5 separate regions of the Homo sapiens genome follow, and all the other regions are linked to region 4. Evidence: fine-mapped expression QTL. A gene starts in region 4. Each other region holds a variant in brackets. All regions are shown on one strand. Distances are between the middles of the regions.

Evidence for each region. PIP is the estimated chance that this variant, and not a neighbour inherited with it, causes the effect.
Region 1: its variant is fine-mapped to the expression of LAMC3 in whole blood (TOPMed, PIP above 0.99).
Region 2: its variant is fine-mapped to the expression of LAMC3 in whole blood (TOPMed, PIP above 0.99).
Region 3: its variant is fine-mapped to the expression of LAMC3 in lung (TOPMed, PIP 0.98).
Region 5: its variant is fine-mapped to the expression of LAMC3 in blood mononuclear cells (TOPMed, PIP above 0.99). The same link has a PIP of 0.9 or more in whole blood.

What each region holds. Positions count from the first base shown.
Region 1 is chr9:131,066,384-131,070,383 of GRCh38, forward strand. It overlaps LAMC3 (laminin subunit gamma 3), which reads left to right. Exons shown (of 28, transcript NM_006059.4): 14 at 577-822; 15 at 1,695-1,848; 16 at 2,525-2,667; 17 at 3,289-3,467. Among named protein-coding and RNA genes, the nearest start is that of AIF1L, 28 kb to the right of the region's middle. RefSeq lists an enhancer at 2,575-3,084. The variant C/G (reference allele first, on the strand shown) is at 2,106.
Region 2 is chr9:131,039,766-131,043,765 of GRCh38, forward strand. LAMC3 (laminin subunit gamma 3) reads left to right here. Exons shown (of 28, transcript NM_006059.4): 7 at 1,872-1,970. Among named protein-coding and RNA genes, the nearest start is that of LAMC3, 33 kb to the left of the region's middle. The variant A/G (reference allele first, on the strand shown) is at 2,125.
Region 3 is chr9:131,091,151-131,095,333 of GRCh38, forward strand. It overlaps LAMC3 (laminin subunit gamma 3), which reads left to right. Exons shown (of 28, transcript NM_006059.4): 28 at 387-3,323. The coding sequence ends at 637. LOC124902289 (a long non-coding RNA gene) reads right to left here and starts at 2,222. Exons shown (of 3, transcript XR_007061825.1): 1 at 2,126-2,222. RefSeq lists enhancers at 1,183-1,781, 1,782-2,378, 3,176-3,677. The variant C/G (reference allele first, on the strand shown) is at 1,929.
Region 4 is chr9:131,006,616-131,010,795 of GRCh38, forward strand. It overlaps LAMC3 (laminin subunit gamma 3), which reads left to right and starts at 2,559. Exons shown (of 28, transcript NM_006059.4): 1 at 2,559-2,972. The coding sequence starts at 2,600.
Region 5 is chr9:131,044,890-131,048,889 of GRCh38, forward strand. LAMC3 (laminin subunit gamma 3) reads left to right here. Exons shown (of 28, transcript NM_006059.4): 8 at 635-771. Among named protein-coding and RNA genes, the nearest start is that of LAMC3, 38 kb to the left of the region's middle. The variant C/T (reference allele first, on the strand shown) is at 1,796.

The DNA.
Region 1 (4,000 bases), 60 kb after region 4:
GGGAGGCTGAGGCAGGAGAATTGCTTGAACCCAGGAGGCAGAGGTTGCAGTGAGCCGAGATCGTACCACACTACACTCCAGCCTGGGTGATAGAGTGAGACTCCATCTCAATAATAATAATAATAATAATAATATAAGGATGATGATGAAGAAGGTCATGGTGATTGAGGTGCTGCTGGGGATAGTGGTGATGGTGAAGATAATGGTGACGATGATGATGAGGGTGTGAGGACAGATATGTGATGATAGCCACCACTCCTGAGTGCTTACTACATGTCAGGCTGGATGTTAAGCGCTTTTCACAAATTATGTCACTGAATCCTCCCCACAGTCCTGTGGGGAGCTGCCATTGTTGTCCCCGCTTTAGAGATGAGGAACCTGAGCTCCTAGAGGCGCAGTGGCTTGCTCAGGACCACACAGCTGTGGGCAGCCACTGGGGGCCGGTCCCAGGTCCTCCTGCCCAAGCCCGTGCTGCTCCGGGGAAGGTGGAGGGACGCTTGCTCTGCTTCACACCCACCCTCATCCCTGGTGGGTCCAGCCAGCTGTGTTCCCCACACGTGCTCCCTCTACACACAGGGCGGCGCTGTGAGGTCTGTGATGATGGCTTTTTTGGGGACCCGCTGGGGCTCTTTGGGCACCCCCAGCCCTGCCACCAGTGCCAGTGTAGCGGGAACGTGGACCCCAATGCCGTGGGCAACTGTGACCCCCTGTCTGGCCACTGCCTGCGCTGCCTGCACAACACCACGGGTGACCACTGTGAGCACTGTCAGGAAGGCTTCTACGGGAGCGCCCTGGCCCCTCGACCCGCAGACAAATGCATGCGTGAGTACCTACCTCCAGACCCCAGGGTGGCACATGGTGGGCCCCTTCTCTTCTGCCCTGGCTCAGGGCCCAGAAGGGGTGGCTGAGGAACCCACCAGAACCAGCTGGCTCCTCTGCAAGGCTGTCCAGCCTCAGGCAGGTCACTTCCCTTCCTGTCTCCATGTCCAGAAAGCACAAGGGTTTGCCCCTCTCCCAGGTCTCTTTCAGCCGGGAGATCTTATAAACTCTGATCCGAAGCCTGGATTGTCTAGTGCTTACCTCCCACTCTGCAGTCAGCACGTATGGCTGACCCGGTGATCGCCCTGCGCCGGGTCTCCATGGCCATGCCTCCCCTCATCACCTCAGTTAACACTCAGCCCCTGGGAGGCTCCCAGAGCCCTGCAGGAGGGAAGCTCAGCCTTTGCTCCACACTGATGTGCTTGGAGCCCTTTCCCACGCAGCAGCTGCCGGCTCCTGCTCACTCTCGCTTTGTGGAACCCCTGCAGGAAACACCGCTCTGGCCCAGAGTGAGATGCTCCCCTGGCAGTGGCCAGGAGAACAGGGTCACGGGACCCAGAGCCATGGGTGCAGGGCTGTGCCTGTGACCCTCGCCCAAGTCTCTGGCCCTCTGCAGCCTGCCAGGGCTCAGGGCAGGCTCAGAAGGATTGTCTGTTACCATGACCGTCCTGGGCTGTCCCTCTAAGGATATAGTCAATGGGCTGAGGCTTGAGCTTGGCCCTGGAGCCTTTTTCCAGCAGTGGCGTCTGAATCTGGGCTGAATGTGCCGTATCATCTCTGGAGGCTCCCCCATCTCCTCTGCCTCTGTTGGACCCCCAAAGTTGGAACAGACAATCTGCATTGTTCCCAACACCCCTTCCTGCTCCTGCCCCCAGCTTGCAGCTGTCACCCACAGGGCTCGGTCAGTGAGCAGATGCCCTGCGACCCAGTGACAGGCCAATGCTCCTGCCTGCCTCATGTGACTGCACGGGACTGCAGCCGCTGCTACCCTGGCTTCTTCGACCTCCAGCCTGGGAGGGGCTGCCGGAGGTAGGTAGGGTGAGACTGCCGGTGCCCTGGGGACCTCTCCAGGAGGGAAGAAGGCATCGGGCAGCCCCCAGGGAGGGGCCTGGTTTGGAAGGTGTTGTCCTAGGCCCACTGCCAGGCACATTGTGCCCTTTGCCGAAGGGGAGCAAAGGGATGGACTCTTGGCATCCGACTCATGCTCCTGCCAGCCCAGGATGCAGGCCAAGAGCAGCCCTAAAGGGTGTCCAGGCAGGCAGGTGGCCGGTTTGGTCTCTGATTCC[C/G]TTCTCAGTGACACTCTCCCTGGGTGGCCTTTTGGCCACAGTAGCACCTTAGACAAGTGTTCTTAGGGAACAGGAGGACTCCAGGGAAACACCAAGTGGAGCAAACAGGTTTCTTCCTTGCAGGACTTCTCAGAGCTCTTACTATGCTGATTGCATCATGACTTTCCAACAGAGGGGTATAGTCTCCCCGAGACACGTTTGTCCCCATAGCCTTATTTTATCTTCTTTTCTCCCTGAGCATCCTGGGAAACTTGTGCTTTCCAGAGCACAGCTGGGGAAGCTGTGCCATGCACCGAGAGGAGATGGGGTCTTGTCAGCAGAGGGCTGTGATCTGAGGCCCCAGCCAGCTGCAGCCGGCAGAGGCTGGGCCAGGAGTGGCCCTGAGCTTGCCTCAGACCCAGTTCCTTCCCTGATCACAGCTGCAAGTGTCACCCACTGGGCTCCCAGGAGGACCAGTGCCATCCCAAGACTGGACAGTGCACCTGCCGCCCAGGTGTCACAGGCCAGGCCTGTGACAGGTGCCAGCTGGGTTTCTTCGGCTTCTCCATCAAGGGCTGCCGGGGTAAGGAGGCTGGGTCCTTCCCGGGCTGCCCTGAGGGTGGGGCCCGAGGGTCTCTGGGCAGAGATGACTGATGGGGAAAATGGGCGCAGCAGGAAAGGATCGTCAGACATGGGACAGGGTCCCGAGAGCAGCCGGAAGCATGGAGCGAGTTGCTCCCGTGGCAGTGGCCGGGACAGCAGAGTCACATGACCCAGAGCAGTGGGTGCAGGGCTGTGCTTGTGACCCTCGCCCAAGTCTCTGGCCCTCTGCAGCCTGCCAGTGTCCTCATGCCGGCCAGGAATGTAGTCCCAGACGCGCTGTTAAGTGCCTGTGTGCCTGGGGCCATCATGTCACTCTCTGGGCCTCAGTTTCCTCACCTGTAGAGTTGGGCTGCATTGGCAGTTCCTAAACCTGGCTGGTCCTCAGATCCCGAGGGAACATTGGAATAAGCCAGGCTCTGTGCCACCTTCAACCTTCTGAATCAGAATCTCCAGGGAAGGGCCCAGGAATGTTTTTGATGCTGCCTAGGGCATTCTGGGAACACCCAGAACCCAGCACGCACTGCCCCTGGCCCCTCTAAACCCAGCACGCACTGCCCCTGGCCCCTCTAAACCCAGCACGCACTGCCCCTGGCCCCTCTAGCCTGCAGGTGCTCCCCACTGGGCGCTGCCTCGGCCCAGTGCCACGAGAACGGCACATGCGTGTGCAGGCCTGGCTTCGAGGGCTACAAATGTGACCGCTGCCACGACAACTTCTTCCTCACGGCAGACGGCACACACTGCCAGCAATGTCCGTCCTGCTACGCCCTGGTGAAGGAGGAGGTGAGTCGGCCCAGACCCACTCACCTTTCCATTCATTCTGTATTCCCAGCAAGTGCCAGCTCTATGCCGGGCACCAGGAACTGCCTGCTTACCCCCAGTGCTCAGGCTTTGCAAGCCCACCACCTACCTTCTCCCTGTGCCCACCCAGCTTCAGGCCTGTTCCAGCCTGGCTCGACCCTCACCTCGGCCCTTCCCCTGCTCTAGGTGGATGGGGGAAATGTGACTCTTGTCACCTGCCTTTCCCCACCACGCCAGGCTGGGGTCTCACTCTCTCAGGTTCGGTGGGGATGAGACCACAGATGACCCCTTGGTAAAGAGGGTTAACAGGAGGTGATTCTGAGTGGGAAGGTGGCTGGTGCAGAAGTCCGGAGTTCAAGCTCTAGGGTTAACCCATTGGGGTTCCCCTCCCCCAACTCCATTCATTGTCATGTGTCTGGGCAGGCAACAGCCTTGGTAAGCCTCTGTCTCTTTCGTACTCCAGACTGGAGATAGTTCAGGCCTGCAATCCTTTTCTAGAAACCAGTGGGGCCAGC
Region 2 (4,000 bases), 33 kb after region 4:
CTGACCTTCGGGGTTCTCTGGGCCTCTGGATAGCAGGGCACGCAGTGTGGGGAGCGGGGTGGGAGAGGCTGAGTGTCATCTGGGTGCACCGAGTTTGGTACCTAGTGGGACAGCTGAGGGGAGAGAGGGACAGGGGCTCCTGGGGTCTGGACCTTACCCCAACACATTTGCCATCACTTGATTGAGAAAGTATACAATGGCCAAAAAACAAAAACAAAACAAAACAAAAACCTATGATAAATTTAGAAGCTTTTTTTTTTTTTTTTTGAGACAGATTCTTGTTTTGTCAACCAGGCTGGAATGCAGTGGTGCCATCTTGGCTCACTGCAACCTCCACCTCCCCGGTTCCAGCAATTCTCTGCCTCAGCCTTCTGAGTAGCTGGGATTACAAGCATGCACCACCATGCCCACTATCTCTATTTTTTTTTTTAAGATGGAGTCCTCCTCTGTCACCCAGGCTGAAGTGCAGTGGCGCGATCTCTACTCACTACAACCTCCGCCTCCCAGACTCAAGTGATCCTCTCATCTCAGCCTCCTGAGTAGCTGAGATTACAAATGTGCACCACCACACCCGGCTAATTTTTGTATTTTTTGGTAGAGATGGGGTTTTGCCATGTTGCCCAAGCTGGTCTCAAGCTCCTGGGCTCAAGTAATCCACCCTCCTCGGCTTCCCAAAGTGCTGATTACAGACGTGAGTCACCGCGCCTGGCCCAGAAGCACTTTTAAGTGAACTTGCTTTGGTTGATAACGGGCATCTTTGTATATTTGAGAGGCAGCAGAAACACATTGGGGATATCTAGGAGAGCTCTGATTCCTTGTAAAATATTTGGTGGTTCTGGGCATAAAACTGACCATGAGATGGGGCCTGGCTGCTTCCCTGGGGTCCCTCTGTCCTCTGGACCTTTGCAGGTGCCACACCTCCCACCCCTGCCCCCTCTCCCCAGCCTGTGGCTCACAGCCTCCTGCTCATTCTTCAGGTCTCAGCTGAGCAGCCCCGCTCTCGGGACACCTTCCCTCCCACCTGCCCCTCGCCTGCACACCCAGGCTGAGTCAGAGGCCCCACAGTGCAGGCACAGCCTCTCGTACATCTCCCACAACACGTATCGCGGTACAGGGTCTGCGTGATCTGTCTGTCTACACCAGACTGGGATTCACCAGGGAGGAACCATGTCTTATTAGATGAGTGGATGGATGGAGGGAGGGATGGAAAGATGCATGGATGGGTGAATGAATGGGTGGATAGGTGGCTGCTGGACAGAAAGAAGGAAGGATGAATAAGTGGATGGAGGAGTGAGGGGATAGACAGAAAGATTCATGGAGGCCGAGCACGGTGGCTCATGTATGTAATCCTGGCACTTTGGGAGGCCAAGGCAGGTGGATCACCTGAGGTCACGAGTTAAAGACCAGTCTAGCCAACATGGTGAAACCCTGTCTCTACTAAAAATACAAAAATTAGCTGGACATGGTGATGCATGCCTGTAGTCCTAACTACTCAGGAGGCTGAGACAGGAGAATCACTTGAACCCAGGAGGCAGAGGTTGCAGTGAGCCAAGATCATGACACTGCGCTCCAGCCTGGGTGGCAAAGTGTGACTCTGTCCCAAAAAAAAAGATTCATGGATGATGAGTGAGTGCGTGGATGACAGATGGAAGGATCCTGGATGGATGTGTGGTGGGTGGGAAGATGGACCACTGTACCAGTGATGGATGGGTCACTTCCTTGGCAAGATGGGAACAGTAAAGCCAGGTCAGTTACCTGCGTCAGCCTCACTCCTGATGTTGGCAGCAGGGAAAGCTCCCTTCCTAGGATGGGCTGTTGCCATTCTGAATTTGCTCATTGCACATTTTCCTCTTGTCCTGTCTCATTGGCAGACCCTGCACTTGCAATCCCGCTGGCAGCCTGGACACCTGTGACCCCCGCAGTGGGCGCTGCCCCTGCAAAGAGAATGTGGAAGGCAACCTATGTGACAGGTTTGTGAGCTAATCCAGCAGTAAGCTTGCTGGAAGTGACCTGGGGGCTCACTGATGAGGCACCAAAGCTGTGGAGTGCGGGGAGGAGCAAGGGGCACGGTCTTCATGGACTTGGGTGACCTTGTCACCCTGTGCCCTTCCTGGGGCACCATGT[A/G]TCTGTCATACAGGAAGTTACTCAAAAGCTTTATGGCACTGTTTGTGCTTTGATTCAACACCACTGATCATTCATAAGCTGAGAAAATACATGTCTTAGCTTAGAATCCTGAAAAGAAAGAACTGGAATGATAGGAGAGACCATCTAATCCAGGGATAGTAAATAGATGGTGCTCGTACTACCACCTGCTGTGGCAGACATCGCTAATGGAGCACTATCACAGGCCTCCCGTTTCACACTCACTGCAGACATAGCTAATGGAGCACTATCACAGGCCTCCCGTTTCACACCCACAGCAGACATCACTCATGGAGTATTATCAACGCTCCCCTTTCACACCCATGACAGACACCACTAACGGAGCACTATCACAACCCTTTCACACCCACGGCAGACCTATCACAGCCCTCCCTTTTCACACTCAATAGACATTACTCATGCAGCACTGTCAATACACCCCTTTCACACCCACAGCAGACATCACTAATGGTATACCCATGGTACACATCACTAAGGGAGCACTATCACAGTCTTCCCCTTTCTTACCCACAGCAGATATCACTAATGGAGCACTATCACAACCCTCCCTTTTCACACTCACGGCCAACATCACTCATGGAGCATTGTCAATGCACCCCTTTCACACCCACAGCAGACATCACTAATGGTATAACCATGGCAAACATCACTAATGGAGAACTATCACAGCCTCCCCCTTTCATACCCACAGCAGGCATCACTAATGGAGCACTATCAACCCTTGCCTTTCACAGCCATGGCAGACATCACTAATGGTGCCATATCAAACTTTCCCTTTCATAGCCATGGCAGGCATCACTAATGAAGCACTACTACAACCCTTCTTTTTCACACCCATAGCAGACATCATTCATGGAGCACTGTCAACACACCCCTTTCACACCCACAACAGACATCACTAATGGCATACCCATGGCAGACATCACTAAGGGAGCACTATCACAACCCTCCCCTTTCATACCCACAGCAGACATCACTAATGGAGCACCATCAACTCTCCCCTTTCACACCATGGCAGACATCACTGATGGCATACCCATGGCAGACATCACTAAGGCAACACTATCACAACCCTCCCCTTTCACACCCACAACAGACATCACTAATGGGGCACAGCAGTCTTGGCCATGAGCCCTACTATAACCTCAGGATCCTTCTTAACACCCTGCTTCAGGAAGCCCCTACCCACTGAGCTGGATTTTGAGCCTGTTTGCCATCTTTGCAGTCTGATCATGGTACAAATGGGGCATCTGAAGCTCTGCAAGTCAAAGGGGCTCTCCCAAGGCCAGGAAGTACATAAACTTCCTCTTTCAAGTGTTCAAGAGGCCTCCAAGCTCCAGCAGTGCGGCCAGCAGACAAACATGGGTTTAGCTCCTTGGGTACACACTATCTCTTCTTCCTGGCTTTGTGTCTGACATTCACCAGAGCTGCTTGGAGAAGTGGCAGATTCTGGGGCTGGGGCTGGAAAAAGACAAGATAAGCCCAAGGCGTCTTACAGTGCCAGGAAGCAAGGAAATGCTGAAAAACAGAGACAGACACAAACAAAACAGCCCAAACCAGAACGTGGGCCCATGTCAAAAGGACACAGGAGCCGACGTGAAAGAGCTCTCAGGGCTGAAACAATTTGAGCAACAAAATAAACGATAGTATTGGATTATAACCCAGAGAATAAAGTCAAATCCACGAATCCATACTGATGTAAATAGATGATTGAATACATAAATAGATGGGCATGAAGAGACAAACCTTCCTTGCAGAAGAATTCCAAGTAATGAATGTAGAAATGAAGGAACTGGAAAACCACTGTTCAGACCTCACAGTGGTAATTGCTACAGGC
Region 3 (4,183 bases), 85 kb after region 4:
GCTGTCAGTGAATTGAGCCAGCATGTTCAAGCTGGCAAAAATCACAGGGGCCTTTCTCCCACACTGTTTTGTAAATGAGTAAACTAAGACTCAGAGAGGACTCACCTGAGGCCTTCTTTTTTAACAATAATAGTAAAACCATCAACAAAAATGACATTTGTCAAGTGCCACCCAGGAGGATGTTCTAGAGTCTGCCCATGGGCCCGTTGGGATGCTATGGGTCCTCACCCACCTCCCAGCCCTTCTGCTCCCCATCTTTCCCTGGTGGATGGTGGGCCATTGGAATCCTGGGAGGCCTGAGCTGGGGAGAGGCTCAGGGGCTGGGAGGTGCCCTGGGGCCTGCAGGGCTGCTGGCTCACAGTGAGGCTGTTTGTGCCCCACCACAGGGTCGCTGGACACCCATCAAGCCCCAGCCCAGGCCCTGAACGAGACTCAGTGGGCACTAGAACGCCTGAGGCTGCAGCTGGGCTCCCCGGGGTCCTTGCAGAGGAAACTCAGTCTGCTGGAGCAGGAATCCCAGCAGCAGGAGCTGCAGATCCAGGGCTTCGAGAGTGACCTCGCCGAGATCCGCGCCGACAAACAGAACCTGGAGGCCATTCTGCACAGCCTGCCCGAGAACTGTGCCAGCTGGCAGTGAGGGCTGCCCAGATCCCCGGCACACACTCCCCCACCTGCTGTTTACATGACCCAGGGGGTGCACACTACCCCACAGGTGTGCCCATACAGACATTCCCCGGAGCCGGCTGCTGTGAACTCGCCCCCGTGTGGATAGTCACTCCCTGCCGATTCTGTCTGTGGCTTCTTCCCTGCCAGCAGGACTGAGTGTGCGTACCCAGTTCACCTGGACATGAGTGCACACTCTCACCCCTGCACATGCATAAACGGGCACACCCCAGTGTCAATAACATACACACGTGAGGGTGCATGTCTGTGTGTATGACCCACACGTGTTCAAGTCTAATCCATCCAGTCAGCAGCTTACGGTCCACACACATTACAGTCCACAGCTGTTGTGAGAGCCACCTGTGTGCTGGACACCCTCTGGATGTTGGGCAAGTTGTTACATGAGATGCCCTGGGGTGCTACATCCACTCACTCCAGATAGCAGGGAGGTCTCAGCAGATCTGCAGAGATCAAGGGGGTCAGCAACAGCCAAAGCCCCTAGTCCCAGAGCTGGCTGCCCTCTGTTTCACAGCAGCTCCCTGACCTGTGTTGCTGCGTGCACTCCCTACAGCTCGACACAGCCAGGGGACCAACAGGCCAAGAAATGCAAGATCCCGGGAGGGTTCTTAGCAGCAGAATCTGAGGCCCAGAGACCCTGAGGCCGTGGCCAGGCCTGCTAGTCTGGCTAGAGCAAGGCCCATTCCTGGCGGGGGTGTCATTGCCTTCACCGGACGCTTCCCTCTCAGGGTCCTGGGACTGCACCAGATGCCCTGAGGGAATGGCCCACCCTGGCCTGTACCCACTTCAGCCTGTGATCTATCCAAAGAGCCAGGCCCAAAAGCGCCTAGGTCAGGGTGCTCAGGCTACCAGGAGCACGCCTCTGTGCCCCCGGCAACCCAGTTGACCTTTAATTGACGCTTTCCAGACCAGCCCTGCGGCACCACTTGCCATGCGGGAGGCCACCAGGGTGTGCAAGCCTGGCTGCCATTCCAGTCTGTCCTGTCTGGGAATCGCCCTGTGGCCAGGCCCGCATGCTGGCCTCTGCCCAGGACTCCTCAGCATTTCCTCTTGGCATCCCTCCCCTCTCCCAGACCCTCTTCCAGCAGATGGCAAGGCCTCGGCATTGGGAAGTCAGGCACCTCTGCGGGCCCAGCCCCCTCCCGTGGCTCCCCTGACAGGGGCAGGGGTAGGGCAGCAGCACAGACCAATTCCGTTGAACGTGGAAATAAAGGACCCTTTCACTGGGCAGGGTGGTGTGCCTCACC[C/G]TCCCCGGCTGGTGGGCAGCCAGGGCCCTGGCTGTGGGTGTGCATATGACACACCTAGTAGGTGGCCAGCATGTGGACCGGACGTTGGTAGGAAGGTGGCAAAAGCCGAGCTCGTGGCTGGGCCAGTACCTCCCATTAGAGGGCTTTGCTGGGGTTGTGTGATCACAGGTACCTACCCTGTCCTCTCAGGCACTTACCACGTAAAGCCTAGGAGCTGGTGAGTTGGAGGGGTGGGGTGCGGAGAGGCCCTCAGCTGACCTCTGGTTCAGGCTCGAGACGAACTCACAGCCAAGTGTCCGAGGATGGTGAGGAGCAGGGAGGGGCGCCATCCAGGAGGGGGATGGTGTGGGTGGGGCCTTGAAGGGTGGGGAGGCAGAGAAGGAAGCATTCCAGGCAAGAGGGTGGACAACAGTCCGGGGCCCGCAGGGTTGGGGCTCGGCCAGCTTGCATCACTCCAGGACCCCAGGTTGAATGGGGTGGGATGTTGGAGCTGCTCAGTCAGGGCTCTTGGCCGCAGGCCTCAAACCCCTCCTGAGGTGGTTTCAGCAGAAAAGGGGTGTTGGGAGGGTCGCTTGGAACCCTGGAGTAAAAACGGCTGCCACGTGTTGGAGATAGCCTAGGGAGGGGAGCCTGAGGCTTCCGGGATAGGTTGGCTTCCCTCTTCCCCCCTCCCGCCTCTCTTCTTGGTCTGTGTCTCTGCTCTCCTCTCCTGTATCTGCTTCGTTCTTTTCTCTTTATTTATTGATTTTTTTTGAGATGGAGTCTCGCTCTGTTGCCCAGGCTGGAGTGCAGTGGCATGATCTCTGCCCACTGCATCCTCCACCTCCCAGGTTTAAGCAATTCTCCTGCCTCAGCCTCCCGAGTAGCTAGGACTACAGGTGCTTGCCACCATGCCCAGCTAATTTTGGTATTTTTAGTAGAGACAGGGTTTCACCACGTTGGTCAGGCTGGTCTCAAACTCCTGACCTCAGATGATATACCTGCATTGGCCTCTTAAAGTTCTGGGATTTCAGGCATGAGCCACTGCAACCGGCCCATTCTTTTCTCTTTGCAGAGTGGCTTTCTTTGTTTTTCTTGTGCCTGATAGGAGAGGACACCCACCCCTACCGCCATCCCCCATAATGGCCCCAGGTGTACATGTCATCAGGTCCAGTGCTTGCAAGAGACAAGCTGGTGACTCTGTCCTGATTCCAGCTTCTCAGCTTAGGTGAAGTCCCACCAACCCCCGTTCAGGATAATGAGGATCTCTGGATCTAAGGCCAATAATGGATGACCGGTGCCACCCCCCAACCTAATGGGAGATGGTGTTCAGAGAAGAGGTGTGCTCCTCCACAGAAAACTGTAAAATCAAGGCTACGGTGGGGGATTGACATGATTAAACTGAGCTAGGAGTGACTTGGTCCCTAGATGTCTGGGCAGAGGTGGAGAGGCCGAAGATGGGGGAGCTGCTGCTGCACAGTGAGTTTGGTGATTGGCGTCTGGTGTAAGTGATGTCGAGAATATGGAGTTCTTCCAAGACCTCTGGGATAGGGTCTGATGTCCCCCTCCCGCCTCCCTCCAGTTTCTCAGCCGATGGCACACAGTCGTCCTGGTGCCTGCTCTTGGCACTCAGCCTTTATCCACTCAAGCCGTGGGATCCAGCTCAGCTCAGTCCCAGCATCCCCGACGGGTGGAGAACTCGGGCCTGACATGTTGTGACTCACGCAGTCTGATCATGCCTGGTGCATGTGCTGATCTATTCTCTGGCCCCAGAGGTGGGGCCGCTGCCGGGTGGAATGCGGCAGCTGTTGAACATCTGGCTAGCAATGCAGTCCAGCAGCTGAGCAGAAGGTGGGGTGGCCCCTGCCCTGTAGGATGGCTGACTGGAGCCAACCAGCCCAACCGGCCAGGGCAATAGGCTGTTGGAGCCTGGAGAGGGAAGTGCATTATGAGGGCTCTGTCCTAAGTCAGCTCCCATCCACCAAGGGTGGTAACGCTAAGCTTTTACTCTCTGCTTAAACCATCCAGCAAGTCATCAAAGTTACAAAAGCCCCTGCTTAGTGCGTTCTGGGTTACTTCATTGTGAAGATCAGGGGACTGAAGCTCAGCCAGATCAAGTGCCTCGCCTAAGGTCATGCAGCTTGGCCAAATCCAAACCCTTGGGTGAGTGGACAGAGGAGCGTCAGCTAGGAGAGGTGGGCGCTGGTCTTACTGGGGAGGAGGGGCCTGCCCCCTGGACTGCTGCCCTGACCTCAGCCCCATCCCATTCTGCCTAG
Region 4 (4,180 bases):
GCACTAACATTTTTAAAAATTATATTTAACCATTGCATTGATCTAAAGACGGGTATATTAATATCATACGTTAAAACATGTTCTTCAGCCTAAAAGTTCTTTTTTTTCTTCTGACTTTAAAGATATTAGAACAGTTTTTGTGGGTTCCTAGAATTCCTGTGGGCTGCCATGTTTCCTGTGCCTGATAGATGAATTTGCTTTGGATGGGTGCACAGCCCAGCTCAGGGTAGCTGCGTGGACCATCAAGAGTCTGCTGCAATCATGTTCTTGACCATAAGAGAAAACTTTAACAAAGAAGCTTCCATAACACCATCAAAAAAACAATTTGGAATTACATTAAATGATATTTTAACTTGGGGAGAATTTGTATATTTAAACAGTTGGAAATCCGTGAATATAGATGCTGGTCTCTTCAGGTTTTCTGTCTCTCAGTAGCATTTTATAATTTGATTCATTTATATCTTGCACATTTCATACCAGATTTATTATTAGGTGTTCTACCATTTCCTACATCATTGCTGGCATCAGTTTTTTGTTTGTTTTGTTTTGTTTTTGTTTTGTTTTTTAAAAAACAGGGTCTTGCTCTATTGCATAGGCTGGAGTGCATTTGCGTGACCTCGGCTCACTGCAACCTCTGTCTCCTGAATTCAAGCGATTCTTGTGCCTCAGCCTTCCAAGTAGCTGGGATTACAGGTGTGCCACAATGCCTGGCTAATTTTTGTATTTTTAGTGGAGATGGGGTTTCACCATATTGCCCAGGCTGGTCTCGAACTCATGACCTCAGGTGATCTGCCTGCCTCAGCCTCCCAAAGTGCTGGGATTACAGGCGTGAGCCACCGCACCCAGCCAGAAAATGCCTATTGCTGGCATTGGTTTTCGTACTCTATCCTGTAGTCAGCCATCTTACGGAGCTCTTATTAATTTTAATAGTCTTAGTAGAATCTTTTAGATTTTCTAGATGTATGTTCAGGTAAGTAGAAGATATAAATATTTATATCTTTTAAGTTTTTTGTCTTATTGTATTAGCTAGAACTTCCAAAATAACCTTAGGTACCAGTGGTGATATCATATACTAACTCTACTTAGATATAGTTCTGAAATCTCTAACTTATTCCATGGGTCTATTCTGTAGTCCTTTCCACAACCGTATTGTTTTAATCATGTGTAAATAACTGGTAGTGAATCAGCCCACTACAGTTCATCTTGCTTCCAAAAATTTTCTTTCTTTCTTTTCTTTCTTTTTTTTTTTTTTGATGGAGTTTCTCTCTTGTTGCCCAGGCTGGAGTGCAATGGCATGATCTCAGTTCACTGCAACTTCTGCCCCCCGGGTTCAAACAATTCTCCTGCCTCAGCCTCCTGAGTAGCTGGGATTACAGGCACGCACCGCCACACCCAGCTAATTTTTGTGTTTTTAGTAGAGACGGGGTTTCACTATGTTGGCCAGGCTGGTCTCGAACTCCTGACCTCAGGTGATCTGCCTTCCTCAACTTCCCAAAATGCTGGGATTATAGGCGAGAGCCACCGCGCCAGGCCAGGAAATTTATTTCTATTTTCCTTAGAGTTCGTCTGGGAATGGCTGCCTTTTTTTTTTTTTTTTTTTCGAGACAGGGTCTGACTCTGTTGGCCAGGCTGGAGTGCAATGGCATGATCACAGCCCACTGCAGCCTAACCTCCCGGGCTCAAGGGATCCTTCCACCTCAGCCTCCCAGGTAGCTGGGACTACAGGCTTGTGCCATGACGCCGGGCTAATTTTTGTATTTTTTTGTAGAGATAGGGTCTCACTATTTTGCCCAGGTTGGTCTCGAACTCCTGGCCTCAAGTTATCCTTCCGCCTCCACCTCCCAAAGTGCTAGGATTACAGGCGTGAGCCACCGCGCACGACCTGGCTGCTAAATTTTATCGAATGACTTCTCTCCCTCGATTTGCTAATGTTAATAAATGGGGAGTAAAGGGGGCATTTATGGGGGTTGGGGCAGAAGACAAGGAAGCCCTCTCTGAGGTGACATTTGTGATAAGACCAGGTACCCTTGTCACAAATGTCAGGTTAGAATCTCTTTGCTGTGGGGACAGAGCGCAGCCGGCAGCAGGAGTGCTTTTCAGGGTTAAGGGCGACAGGAGCTATGCGGAGCCATCTCACAACCCTGTCCAGGGCACACTTTATTGCTAGGAGGAGATGCGCAAACGGTAGCGATCAGTTAGAGATAGATCCTCTTGTCCCCTTTTATCTCAGGACTCCAAGGCACTGCTGAACAGTTTCTGTTTAATGAGCAGCCATTGAAGCCTCCCAATGGCGAGAATGAGCCTGCATCTTTACCGACCCCACTCCACAGACGAGGAAACTGAGGCTCAAAGAGGCCCGGGTCGCCTCTGGGGCAGACTCCCGAGCCGCGCACTGCCGGGCACGTCCAGCAGGTGGGAGTGGGCGCCCGGGGACGGCGCGGTCCCTGGTATTTTTAGTGGGGTGGGGCCGCCGCCGCCCGCCCCTCCCTCCAGCCTCCCCGCCCCGCAGGGGAAGGCGGGTCCTGGCGGCCAGCGCGCGGTCCGCGCCCACCCTAGCCGAGCGGGGCCGGCAGAGCGCGCGGCGTCGGTGCCCTTGACCATGGCGGCGGCTGCGCTTCTGCTGGGGCTGGCGCTGCTGGCACCGCGGGCGGCCGGCGCGGGCATGGGCGCGTGCTATGACGGCGCAGGGCGCCCGCAGCGCTGCCTGCCGGTGTTCGAGAACGCGGCGTTTGGGCGGCTCGCCCAGGCCTCGCACACGTGCGGCAGCCCGCCCGAGGACTTCTGTCCCCACGTGGGCGCCGCGGGCGCGGGGGCTCATTGCCAGCGCTGCGACGCCGCCGACCCCCAGCGCCACCACAACGCCTCCTACCTCACCGACTTCCACAGCCAGGACGAGAGCACCTGGTGGCAGAGCCCGTCCATGGCCTTCGGCGTGCAGTACCCCACCTCGGTCAACATCACCCTCCGCCTAGGTAAGCGCGGGCTGGGGGCACCGCCACCGCACCCCGTGTCCCCACTCCACTGGGGGTCTGAGGCTGAGGCCTGAGCTGCTGTGCGCCCAGGTTGGGCTGCAGGACCCAGATATGGTGTTGGATGGAGGGGCTCAGAAATAGGAATTAGGCTGGGTGCGGTGGCTCACTCCTGAAATCCCAGCACTTTGGGAGGCCGAGATGGGAGGGTCGCTTGAGCCCAGGAGTTCAAGATCAGCCTGGGCAACGTAGTGAGATCCCATCTTTACAAAAAATAAAGAAAAATAGGCCGGGCGCGGTGGCTGACGTCTGTAATCCCAGCACTTTGGGAGGCCGAGGCGGGCGGATCACCTGAGGTCAGGAGTTCGAGACCAGCCTGGCCAACATGGTGAAAACCCGTCTCTACTAAAAATAGAAAATTTGGCCGGGCGTGGTGGTAGGTGCCTGTAGTTCCAGCTACTCAGGAGGCTGGGGCAGGAGAATCGCTTGAACCCGGGAGGTGGAGGTTGCCGTGAGCCGAGGTCGCACCACCGTTCTCCAGCCTGGGCAACAGAGCTAACTCCGTCTCAAAAAAAAAAAAAAAAAAAAAAAAAAGCTGGGCGTGGTGGTGCACACCTATGGTCCCAGCTACTCAAGAGGCTGAGGCAGGAGGATCACTTAAGACTGAGAGGTTGAGGCTGCATGAAATATGATAGTGCCACTGTGCTACAGCCTGGGCTACAGAGTGAGACCTTATCTCTTAATAAAAAGAAAGAATGAAAAAAAGAAGAAAAAAAAACAGGACCTGTACCCCTAGATAGCCAGAAGGATAGACTGAGGGGTGCCCCGTGGGGCGGGAGAGGCAGGGAGTCACTTGCTGAGCTTTGGTTCTAGGTTGCAATTATAATCCCCTGTAATGGTTTTCCATCCTAGACCAGAACTGTTGGGGAGGTGACACACCAAGGACTGAATTGGTCACCCTCTAGGGCAGGGGCTCCTGATCTTGGGTCTTCTGGTCAACTTCAGGTATTCAGTGGACCCCTGAAGCTGCCTGCAGTCCTCGGGTGGGTTCTGGAAGATAGAAGCTGTGATGTTCATCACTGCACAGGCAAAGTTTAACCCTCTGGGGAGGAGGACTAAGTTTCTTCGTGCTGCTGGGCAGCTGCGCCCGGTGGCATGGCCTCTCTGCCCTGCTCATGACTTGCCGAGGTGCAGAAGCCCTTAGATCTCCA
Region 5 (4,000 bases), 38 kb after region 4:
TGCAGCAGAAACCAGACATTAGAGGAAAAAGTGGAGAAATCCTATTAAAGTCGCTGGGCGCGGTGGCTCAAGCCTGAAATCCCAGTACTTTGGGAGGCTGAGGCGGGCGGATCCCCTGAGGTCAGGAGTTCGAGGTCAACCTGCCAACATGGTGAAATCCCGTTTCTACTAAAAATACAAAAATTAGCCGGGTGTGGTGGCAGGCGCCTGCAATCCCAGCTACCCGGGAGGCTGAGGCAGGAGAATCACTTGAACCCGGGAGGCGGAGGCTGCAGTGAGCCAAGATTGCACCATTGCACTCCAGCCTGGGCCACAGAACAAGACTCTGTCTCAAAAAAAAAAAAAAACAACAACAACAAAAAAACAAAACCTAATAAAGTCTGGAGTTTAGTTAACTTAGTTTTGACAAATGTACTGTGGTAATGTCAGATGTCAGCATCAGGGGAGGCTGTCTGAAGCAGGTATGGGAACAATCTGTAATGTTCTTACTACTCTTCTAGAATTCTGAAAAAAAATTGTTTTTAAGTTTCTGCAGTGATTCTAGACTCTCATTGGTCCAGCTGGGATACCCTGGCCCCGCCCCTTCCTGGCTGATTCACGTGGCCCTCGTGGGCATGTCCTGCCTCCATTTCAGATGTCGCCCGGGGACCTTTAACCTGCAGCCCCACAATCCAGCTGGCTGCAGCAGCTGTTTCTGCTATGGCCACTCCAAGGTGTGCGCGTCCACTGCCCAGTTCCAGGTGCATCACATCCTCAGCGATTTCCACCAGGGTAAGAGATGCTCCCTGCAAACGCCTCCCAAGGGTCTGCTCCCAGCCTAGGCAGGTGATCCTGCCCTGGGGAGATCTTGCATTAGTGGATCTCCCATTGTGGAGAGGAGCCACAGGCCTGCACAGCCTAGGTGGGGTCGGGGGTGAGATGATGGCTCCCCAGTGCCCACCTGCGACCCCCAGCTCCCTCCCCAGTCCCTGACTCTTCTCTTTATACCCGTGGTGGGGTTGGGGGCCGGGTACGTGACGCTTTTTGGATCCTGTAGGGGAATTTCCCACTCACCCCGTTGAGACTGGCCTCCCTTGGTGTGTCTAAACACTGGGGATTCAGGCTCAGTCTCCTGGCCTCCACTTATTGAGCACCTGCTGTTTGCCAGGCACTGTGCTGAGCACCTAACATGCAAGGATTCTCATTCCCCTTTCAATGATGAAGTAACTGAGACCTACAAAAGGTAGGCCACTTGCCTGAGGCCACATAACAGTTGTGAGCACTGCATTTGTCAGCTCCTGAGTTTTGCTCCTTTTTTTTTTTTTTTTTTTTTTTTTTTTTGGACACAGGGTCTTGCTGAGTCACCAAGGCTGAAGTGCAGTGGTGCAAGATTGCACAGCACAGCTCACTGCAGCCACCACCTCCCTGGGCTCACGTGATCCTCCCACCTCAGCCTCCTGAGTAGCTAGGACCACAGGTGTGCACCACCGTGCCCGGCTAATTTTTATATTTTTTTCTAAAGACAGGGTTTTGCCATGTCTTTAGACCCAGGCTGGTCTCAATCTCCTGGGCTCAAGTAGTCTGCCCACCTCCGCCTCCCAAAATGCTGGGACTACAGGCGTGCACCACCATGCCGAGCTAATTTTTGTATTTTTTTTTTTTTTTTTTTTTTTTTTGTACAGACGGGGTCTTACCATGTTGCCCAGGCTGGTCTAGAACTCCTGAGCTCAGGCAATCCCGCCCACCTCGGCTTCCCAAAGTGCTGGGATTATGAGTGTCCGCGCCCAGCTGTTTTGCCCTTAACCGCTGTGGTGGC[C/T]TATACCGTGGTCCCTGACTCCAGGTGGCACAGCCGCATATTTAAAGAGGAAAGCAGCAGAGCTCGGAGCTCTGCATTAAACCAGAGGCTGCGTGGGCCCCAGCGATGTCCCACGGAGCGCCCCGCACCTTCCGCCTGTCCCCAGGAAGGAGCGAGGCATCAGCTGAAACAGAAGAACCTCAGGGCCGACGCTGGGGCGGCCCCAGACATGAGGGCCGCGCGCCCTCTGCTGGAAGCCGCGCAGAAAGCAGGACCGAGAGATGCGCGGACCGGCGCCGCGTGTCTGGGTCCTGGGTCCGGGGGTCTAGGGTGTCAGCGTTGGGCAGGACTCATTTTCTAGACCCTAAGAACAGTGTCATGATCTGTTCTCACATTGGGCCAGGCACTGGGTGTGGCCGGCCCTTCAGGGGTGTCATCTCATTTTGTCTCACAGTTGCCCTTGCGCAGGAGTTCTCAAAACTTTTTGGTCTCTGAATTCCTCTTTTTTTTTTTTTTTTTAAGACGGAGTCTCACTGTGTTGCCCAGGCTGGAGTGCAATGGCGTGATCTCAGCTCTCTGCAACCTCCGCCTCCCAGGTTCAAGTGATTTTCCTGCCTCAGCCTCCTGTGTAGCTGGGACTGCAGGCACCCACCACCACGCCCAGCTTATTTTTGTATTTTTAGTACAGGTCGGGGGTTTCACCATGTTGGTCAGGCTGGTCTTGAACTCCTGACCTCAACTGATCCACCCTCCTCAGCCTCCCAGAGTGCTGGGATTACAGGTGTGAGCCACCGCACCCGGCCTCTGGATCCCTTTATGCTCTTGAAAATTATTGAGAACCCCAAAGTGCTTTTGTTTATGTGGGTGGTTTGTATGGATATTTGCTGTCTTAGAAATGGAAACTGTGGCTGGGCGCAGTGGCTCACGCCTGTAATCCCAGCACTCTGGGAGGCCGGGGTGGGGGTGGGGGGAGCGGATCACCTGAGGTCAAGAGTTCGAGACCAGCCTGGCCAACATGACGAAACCCCGTCTCTGCTAAAAATACAAAAATTAGCCAGGCGTGGTGGCCAGCTCCTGTAATCCCAGCTACTCGGGAGGCTGAGGCAGGAGAATCGCTTGAACCTGGGAGGCAGAGGTTGCAGTGAGCCGAGATCGCGCCACTGCACTCCAGCCTGAGTGACAGGGTGAGACTCTGTCTCAAAAAAAAAGAAAACAAGTAGTTTTTAAATTTTTATTATTTTTATTTATTTTTATTTTATTTTTTTAGCAGAGACGGGGTTTGCCATGTTGACCAGGATGGTCTTGATCTCTTGACCTCATGATCCATCTGCCTCGGCCTCCCAGAGCGCTAGGATTATAGGTGTGAGCCACCACACCCAGCTGATTTTTTTTTTTTTTTTTTTTTTTTTTTGAGTCAGAGTCTTGCTCTGTCACCCAGGCTGGAGTGCAGTGGCACAATCTCAGCTCGCTGCAACCTCCGCCTCTCGGGTTCAGGCGATTCTCCTGCCTCAGCCTCCTGAGTAGCTCAGATTATAGGCAGCTGCTACCATGCCTGGCTAATTTCTGTATTTTTAGCAGAGATGGGGTTTCGCCATGTTGGCCAGGCTGGTCTCGAACTTCTGACCTCAGATGATCCACCCACCTCGGCCTCTCAGAGTGCTGGGATTACAGGCATGAGCCACTGTGCCTGGCCTTCTAGTTCCTTCTAAATGCCTGTCTGCAAACTTCTCTTCATGTTGACATCTTCCTTTCTCTGACCTCTTTCCCCACTCCGTTCCTTCCTTCTTACCCCTTGGCTGCCCCAGGTATTTGGCCTCTGCCTCATTGCCCGCTACCCCCTGGAGAGGCACCTCCTTAAGGTCACTCGCTGTGTGCTGGGCTGTGCTCCGTGTTAACTGCTGTGGCCAGAGGGAGGAGGCACTGAACTGGCACTGGGGACCAGAAGGCCTGGGCTCCCGTCGTGGCTGGGCCCCTTCCTAACCAGGTGGCCTCCTTGCCTGAGGTGCTGTTAATGACATGGGCCACTGGAAGGACAGGGTTCATGAGGTCACAGGTGAGAAAGTTCTCTGAGAACCTGAAGATGAGGTCAAGTCTGGTACTATTAGAGATGGCCCTGATGTCCCAGGGCCCCCATGTGGGGGTCTTCAGGCTGTCTTCATGCTGAGCTCAAAACCCCACTGAAAGGGCAGGGCAGGCTTCCAGGTCTGACCATGCCCCCAAGCAGAT